2 linked regions of the Homo sapiens genome follow. The protein of the gene in region 1 purifies or fractionates together with the protein of each later gene. This does not show direct contact. Each region holds a gene or a part of one and is shown on either strand. Other genes may lie near its edges.

Evidence for each region.
Region 2: the proteins of ELOVL6 (region 1) and SNRNP48 purify together in Homo sapiens (affinity purification with mass spectrometry; one large-scale study listed by BioGRID and IntAct). This does not show direct contact.

The regions. Positions count from the first base shown.
Region 1 is NC_000004.12:110,191,974-110,195,796, reverse strand, and holds part of ELOVL6 (very long chain fatty acid elongase 6), read left to right. Parts: intron 1-3,823. UniProt on the Homo sapiens protein: Catalyzes the first and rate-limiting reaction of the four reactions that constitute the long-chain fatty acids elongation cycle.
Region 2 is NC_000006.12:7,603,568-7,607,390, forward strand, and holds part of SNRNP48 (U11/U12 small nuclear ribonucleoprotein 48 kDa protein), read left to right. Parts: intron 1-1,830; coding exon 1,831-1,919; intron 1,920-2,463; coding exon 2,464-2,628; intron 2,629-3,823. UniProt on the Homo sapiens protein: Likely involved in U12-type 5' splice site recognition.

The sequences.
Region 1 (3,823 bases):
GAAAATGTCCAGTGAGTTGAAATGGTGATTGGTGCCCATTTTATTGCCAGCACTACTCGTTAATACCCGAAGGTTAACAGGCTAGAACTTGCATACCGTGGCAGAGTCACATCTTGGGATTTTTCCCTTCCTGGCTTCTGCTCTCTGTTGATGTTATGTTCTTAGATTGCTTATTGCAGTCAAAGAACCCTGCTGGCTGTTACCCCTCCCTTGCAACTCTTCCTGACCCTAATTGTCTTACTTTCATGTTTTTTTTTAAATGCCAGATTTTGTGCATTTCTCCCAATATCCCAGGGTGCCCAATTTTATCTCTCCTCCCTCCCCAAAAACTGTACAGCCAAAAAGACTTTAAACACTTTTTAAAATTTAATTTTATTAGCCGGGTGTGGTGGCTCCTGCCTGTAATCCCAGCACTTTGGGAGGCTGAGGTGGGTGGATTACCTGACGACAGGAGTTCGAGACCAGCCAGGCCAATATGGTGAAACCCCATCTCTACTAAAAATACAAAAAAATTAGCCGAGCGTGGTGGCGGGTGCCTGTAATCCCAGCTACTCGGGAGGTTGAGGCAGGAGAATTGCTTGAACCCGGGAGGTTCAAATTAAAGCTTTTAGTTTTTATTTTTAATAGAATCCAGCTAATGCAGGACAAAAAGTCTTGAACCAGATTTTCTTTTCACTCCCTTTTTAATAGGAGAAGGGAACTCCATAACCAAGGCTTAGACCCTCTTGAGGAGAGAGGAACTTGAGGAAACCATAAAATCTTACCTTTTTCAGACTCATTAACTTAAAATGGTTTGAAATAGCTTCTGGAGGAAAAACATGATATAGTGAAGCTTCTACTCTGTCTTTTGGGAATTTATGGTTGTCCTTATAAATCTCTTCTTAGTAACAGGCAAAACTTGTTAATTTAGAGAATTAAAACATCCTCTCTCAAAAGTGAACTACATTGGCTTTTGAAGAACTGTGAGAATGGCCAGGAGTAGTATTTTGCCAGTATGCTGCCTTTGCTAACTAGCATCATTTAAGAGGACCTAAAATAAGAATACTTTATTAAACATACGCTATAATCCATACTTACTAACCATAGCGCAAATTAATGTTAACATACCCTATAATCCATACTTACTAACCATAGCACGTGTTAATGGAATGGGGCCCGACTTTTGGAGTAGCATTTGTATAAACCCTAAAGGGTTCAACTGAGGCTAGTTTTCAAGTTTATTGCTGCTTTAATGAATCATTAACCTCATACTCATTGGCCTAGCCATGAAAGTAAATACTGCAGACTTTTTTTACTTTGCTAGCAAAAAGTTTCATATATAATAGGTTAGAATAGCAATTGAAATGCAAAGTAATAAGTGTATTCCCTTGTAGAATCATCCTGGGCCTCATCTTGAAACTACATGTCCAGTGAAAAATATCCTGTCTGGTTATATTATCTGGTCAATGAGAGTTTATTACATGAGGTAGAGAAAAATGTCTGCTCATAGGTCCAAATAGGAGTTTTGAATTCTAATTTTCACTGAAAAGTCCTTGCAATTTTACAACATTGAAAATAGAGACATTTTGCTCTTTTATGAGATGTCTGGCCTTTACCTGTTTTTCTCACTAAGAGCTGACTTAAGTTGGAAGTGCTGCTAGCCAGGGAGCAAAATCACCTGGTGATTGCTAAGGCGACATATAATTCATTGAGTGAGAAGGGAAGCTGGGCTCTCTCTGCCTTCTCTTTCAGCAGCCTGCCAGGTTTGTGCTAACAGCAGTGGATGCTAGTTGCTCCAGTTGTAATTGTCTAGCCAATGATGATTATCTTCTGATGTCGGCTGACACGGTGCCCACCAATAGGAAAGCAGGAGGCCTGTGCTGACTGCTGTAACATTATGTATGTGAGGTGACGTCTTCAAAGGGCTTGCCTAGAACTTCATGAAACCCTCCCCCTCTCCTGGCATTCTCCACACATCCAGCCTTTCAAAGCTTTATATATTTTTCTGACTTTTCTCCCCACTCACTCCCTTGGTGGTGTAAAAGGGTTTACTTGTTTTAACATTTTGTATTCTGTATTATAGAGTCTATAAGATAGTATAGGAATTTTAAGAATTAAATGCTGTTCAGCTGAGGAAGCCTTTTTATTCACAAATTTGTTTTTACCAAAGGTAAAAATGGAGTGAAACATTTTATTTTATTTTGTTTTATTTTTGAGACAGGGTCTCACTCTGTTGCCCAGGCTGGAGTGCAGTGGCACAATCTTGGCTCACTGCAACCTCTGCCTCCGGGTTCCAGTGATTCTTATGTCTCAACCTCCCAAGCAGCTGGGATTACAGGTGCCTGCCATGACACCAAGCTAATTTTTGTATTTTTAGTAGAGATGGGAATTCACCGTGTTGGTCAGGTTGGTCTTGAACTCCTGACCTCAAGTAATCCGCCCACCTCGGCCTCCGAAAGTGCTGAGATAACAGGCTTGAGCCACTGCAACCGGCCGTGAAACATTTTAAAAGGAGTTGTACATCTATATCTTTTTTGTAGGTGAAGTTTGGAAAGTAACACGATGTACAATTTCATGATTAAAGAACATAAAAAGCACTAAAAACCTGTGTTAGCATTTAACTCAAATATAGCAGCATAAAAAATATAGCAGCATAATGTTAATGAAACTGTTCAAATGCAGACATAGTATTTGGCTGTTGTTTTTCATTTAGTGAGGATTGCTTTGAATTGCTTCCTGAAGTCTTCCTTGCAACCTTCTACATTCATTTGTAAGAAAAATGGCTGGAAAACAGTGCATCTGTGACTATGGAACAGAGTAGGCCAGAGTTTCATTTCATCATTAACATTGCAGCAACAAATTTGGTCAGCTCTGTAGGAATATAGTGTGTCTATATTGTACTCATGTCACTTGCTGTTTATTTTGAGGTATCACAGTTCATATTGATTTAGGATTAAAACTTGTGTGAGGATCATAACATGACATTCAATAATTTTTAGAAAGCACTGGGATGTAGGCATATGTACTAGGTTAAGAGTGAGAAGAATGAGAAAATACATAGAGAAAAAACGTGTAATCTGTGTGGGGTCCTAGAAAATAATGTAAAGTTGTGCTGGAGCTTTGATATGAACTTTCATGTATCTTTTAATAAATTATAAATATTCATGCAATTCTTGTTTAGGATTCCAAAGGATGAAAGCCAGCTTAATGCAAAATATTTTATGATTATATTATCCATCTGTGTATTTGTACTAGTTATAATTAGTGCTTAAAATTTTTTCATGAAGTCTTTTTCACATTGGAAGTAAAATTTTGTGATCTTCAGAGGATTGCCTGTTGCTTTTTTGTTTGAGGGTGATTCTAAATGTGTCAAAGTGTATAACATTGGAACTTAATGAAACTTTTCAAATGCAGACATAGTATTTCACTGTTGTTTTTCCTTTAGTGAGGATTGCTTTAAATTTCTTCCTGAAATCTTCCTCGTAACCTTCTGCGTGCATTTGTAAGAAAAATGGCTGGAAACTTCAAAGTCAACTTATTCCATATCTAAGAGTTGCCTTATATACTTCCTTGAAAGAAGAATCTTTCTTTTTCTTTTTTTTCTTTCTTTCTTTTTTTTTTTTTTCTTGGATGGAGTTTTGCCCTTGTTGCCCAGGCTGGAGTGCAATTGTTCCATCTCGGCTTACTGCAACCTCTGCCTCCTGGGTTCAAGTGATTCTCCTACCTCAACCTCCTGAGTAGCTGGGTTTACAGGCATGCGCCACTACACCCGGCTGATTTTTTTGTATTTAGTAGAAACGAGTTTTCACCATGTTAGTCAGGCTGGTCTCGAACTCCTGACTTC
Region 2 (3,823 bases), on another chromosome or scaffold:
CCTATTACCTGTTACTTTCTTACCTGAAATGCTCTGTTTTTGCCATTTTAAATCTTGTTGAGTTTAAGGGCCACCATTTCCATGAGGTGCTAGTTGACTAATCTATCACTAGTTTATTGTACTAATACTCTGTACCACACAGCTTAGCTCTAAATTTTATGCTGTTCTTTTTACAGTTAAAATCTGTGTTTTAGACTTAACTTAGCAAGTAGAGACCTGGGTCCCTGTCATACTACCTTGGTGATTCTCATAGTCCCTAAGATACTTGGCTCATCAGTTATTTCTTCTCTCGTCTCATAACCCTTGTAATCAAGCTTAAATGTTGCTGCTAGCATTCTTTACGGTTTTATAGTTGATATTTTATTGTGGAAATATTCAAACATATACTAAAGTGGATAGCATCGTCTAAGGAATGTACCCATCACCCAGCTTCAAAAATTGAAATAAAAGATTGGCAAGGGCTTCATAGAGAAAAGCATTTGAGGGAAAGGGAGAAGCAAGGAGGAATAAAGGAATGTCTGCTATTGACTCTTGCCTATGTGGTGGAGCCTGAGCTAGGTGGATTCTGTGCAAATAGCAGGCTTCAAGGCGCTTACATAGAGCTGCTGACAGGGAGGCTTGTAGGCCTGCCAGGGAAGTGCGAGAGCTGGAACTTGAGATAGGTGTGTGTGACTCATGTCACTCCGCTAGGTTGGACCTTGGCATATCTTAGGTTTTCCATGGGAGAATATAGTGGAGGAGGAGAAGTGGTGGATAAGGATTTTCCGGGTGGAAGAACTAGCATTCTGAAAAGCAGATAGAAGTATAGGAGTTTTTCAGAGACTCATTAGTAACCCAGGGTGGCTAGAGCTTAGGGCTTCTCTGTTGAGAGATGAGGCTAAGTTCTATCTTATGTAGGAAAATCCTGGAGGGCTCTGAAGGCTTCATTAAGGAGTTTGGATATTGTTCGATTTTACTTTGAGAGCCATTGAAAGTTTCTTTAAGGTGGGGAGAAATGCAGTCAGGCCTGAATGAATAGTGTTTCTGAGATTGCCCCGTGTCCCCTATACCTTTTTTCTGAAAACATTTTCTATTTAATCATGAGGGAAGTGTAAACTCCTATTTTAGTTTTGTCTTTGCCTCTGCAGTGACTAACCCTGTGCTTGGTGGCATGGGTAAATAGGAAAGGAAAAACTTTCAAGTGGTTTTTACCTATTTGAAAGTTTCTTTATAGAGTCATTCAGAAAGTATCTGTGAAGTGACTGTATGTTTCATATTTTGTCTTATTAAGTCATATGATTAAGTCAAGATGACTTAATTATAAGGTTTTAAAAAAATCATTTGTAAATAAGCTCTAATAGAGAGATAAATTGCAAAACTAAAAATAGTACCAAGAACTCCCATATTGTCTTTACCCAGATCACCCATTGTTAGCATTTTGCCACATAGCTTCTCATTGGCACTCTCTCTCTCTCTCTCTGCACATTTTTCACTCTCTCGATCTCGATCTGTACATATTTTTTTCCCCTGAATTCTTTAAGGGTTAAATTACATACCTCATAACCCTTTATCCCCAGTATGTATTTCCTAAGAACAGAGATATTTTCTCACATAAAGGTAGTACAGTTATAGCAACTTCAAATTTAATATTGCTGTAAAACTTTTATCTACTATTCATATTCCAGTTTGACCATTGCCTTTTCTGTGTTCTCTAAACTGCACAAGTCCCACAGTCAATTATGTCATAGCACTTAGTAAATATTTGATTGTTAGCACTGATTTTTCTAGCGTTACAGTCTTAATTTTTTGAGCAGTTTTCTTACCTGAAGTTCGGTGCTTACCTCTCCCAAGGTGATTCGAGATGTGATAAATGTGCACATGGAAGAACTCAGCAATCATTGGCAAGAAGAGCAAGAGAAGGCAGAGGATGATGCCGAAAAGTACGTCATTATCTTTATTGGTGAAAATACTCTCTCTTTGATAACAGATAACAATTAACTTATAATTGTTAAATTTTAGCATTTCCAAAACCCTTGATAGCACACAGTAAACTCGTGAAAATGCTTTTTGTTTTTCGTTGTCAGTGCCCAGGGTTATTGTACCAGAGTTGTTCTGACATTACCCTTTGACAGTTTTCAGGGGATAGCCATATTAGTGAAATATTCAAATAGCAAAACATACTAACATTTATGCCTAGTATTCCATTATGGGAACACCAAGCATGTGGGAGTTATTTATGTCCTACTGCTCAAGGTCATCGCCAAGGTCTCATTGCAAAAATTAAAAAAATTGCAACCTCAGGCATAAATGGGTTAAGAGCTGTGTTTATTTGTCCTTTTATATGGGTTATAAGATTGTGCATATTTAGACCATATCTACCATTGGTTTGATATAGAATATTACACTTTAGACTGGTGTGTCTGTGTACGTATACTGGAGACCAGTGGTAACACAAACTGATTAACATTCTTTTCTGTGTTTTAGGAATGAAGAAAGGCGATCAGCTTCAGTAGATTCACGGCAGTCTGGTGGAAGCTATTTGGATGCTGAGTGTTCACGACATAGAAGGGATAGGAGTAGAAGCCCACATAAAAGAAAAAGAAACAAAGATAAGGATAAAAACTGTGAGTCGAGAAGAAGGAAAGAGAGGTGGGTCTAACCCTGCATCATCCAACGTTGAATTCTGTACTTTTTAAAAATAGAACAGGTTCTTCTGTTGTAGACCATGCTGAGAAAATAGATTTTAAGAATAAGCTAAAGTAAGGAGAGTAAACAATTGACGATGATTCTTAACATTCATTATAGTTCAGTTCAAATAACCACCACTCTAGTGACATAGATCTCTACATGCGTGATTGGATGTTTTTTTCCCTTTTTTATCTCTTACTTGCTTGCTTCCTAAACAGGACATATGAAAGTATTGTCTAGGCAGGACATTAACTGTTAAACACGGTTTTCCCAGATCCCTTTCTTCTGCTCATTCCTTCCTTCCTCTTTCTCTTATTCTTTCTTTCTTTTTCCTGCTAATTCCTCAAATAAGGGTATGTAGGGTCAGAGAGAACATCTAAATTTTGACAGTCAATTTTGCCTTTGTTAGTAAAATTTTGATAGCTTGAGAGATGTGAATTAATACCGAATTAGTAAATGTAAATCATTTGAGGTCTATTTCTGTAGTCCAGCTGCTTACAAGGCATGTACCTGGATCTCAAGTTCATCAGGTCTAGAACTAAACTTACCTTTTTCTCAATCTGCTCCTCTTTCCCCAGCATTACTGTCCTGGTTAAAGAGATGACTCTCATCTATTAACCTAAGCCAGAAATCAAGGAGTCATTTTAGATACTTCCTTCCACTCCTTATCATCTGGTCAGTTCCTAATGAAATGATGGTCATTTTCCTAATTTTTCTACTTGTCTCTAAATTTACTGCATATGATTCCATTCCCTTGTATACTGCTAGAGTGAATAGTCACCTCATAGAACTCTTCCGTGGCGGTCTGGCATGGTGGCTCATGCCTATAATCCCTACACTGTGGGAGGCTGAGGCAGGTGATCACTTGAGCTCAGGAGCTCAAGGCCAGCCCGGGCAACCTGGCAAAACCTCGTCTCTACAAAGAATACAAAGATTAGCCGGGTGTGGTGGTGCATACCTGTGGTCCTAGCCACTTGTGGGGCTGAAGCAGGAAGATTGCTTGAGCCTGAGAGGTTGAGGCTGCAGTGAGCCGTGTTCTCACCCCTGCACTCCAGCCTGGGCAACAAAGTGAGACCCTGTCTCAAAAAAAGTGAGAACTCTTCAGTGGCAAAATTCACATTCTTTGAATGGCTCTCAAGACTTCTGGGATCCTGGC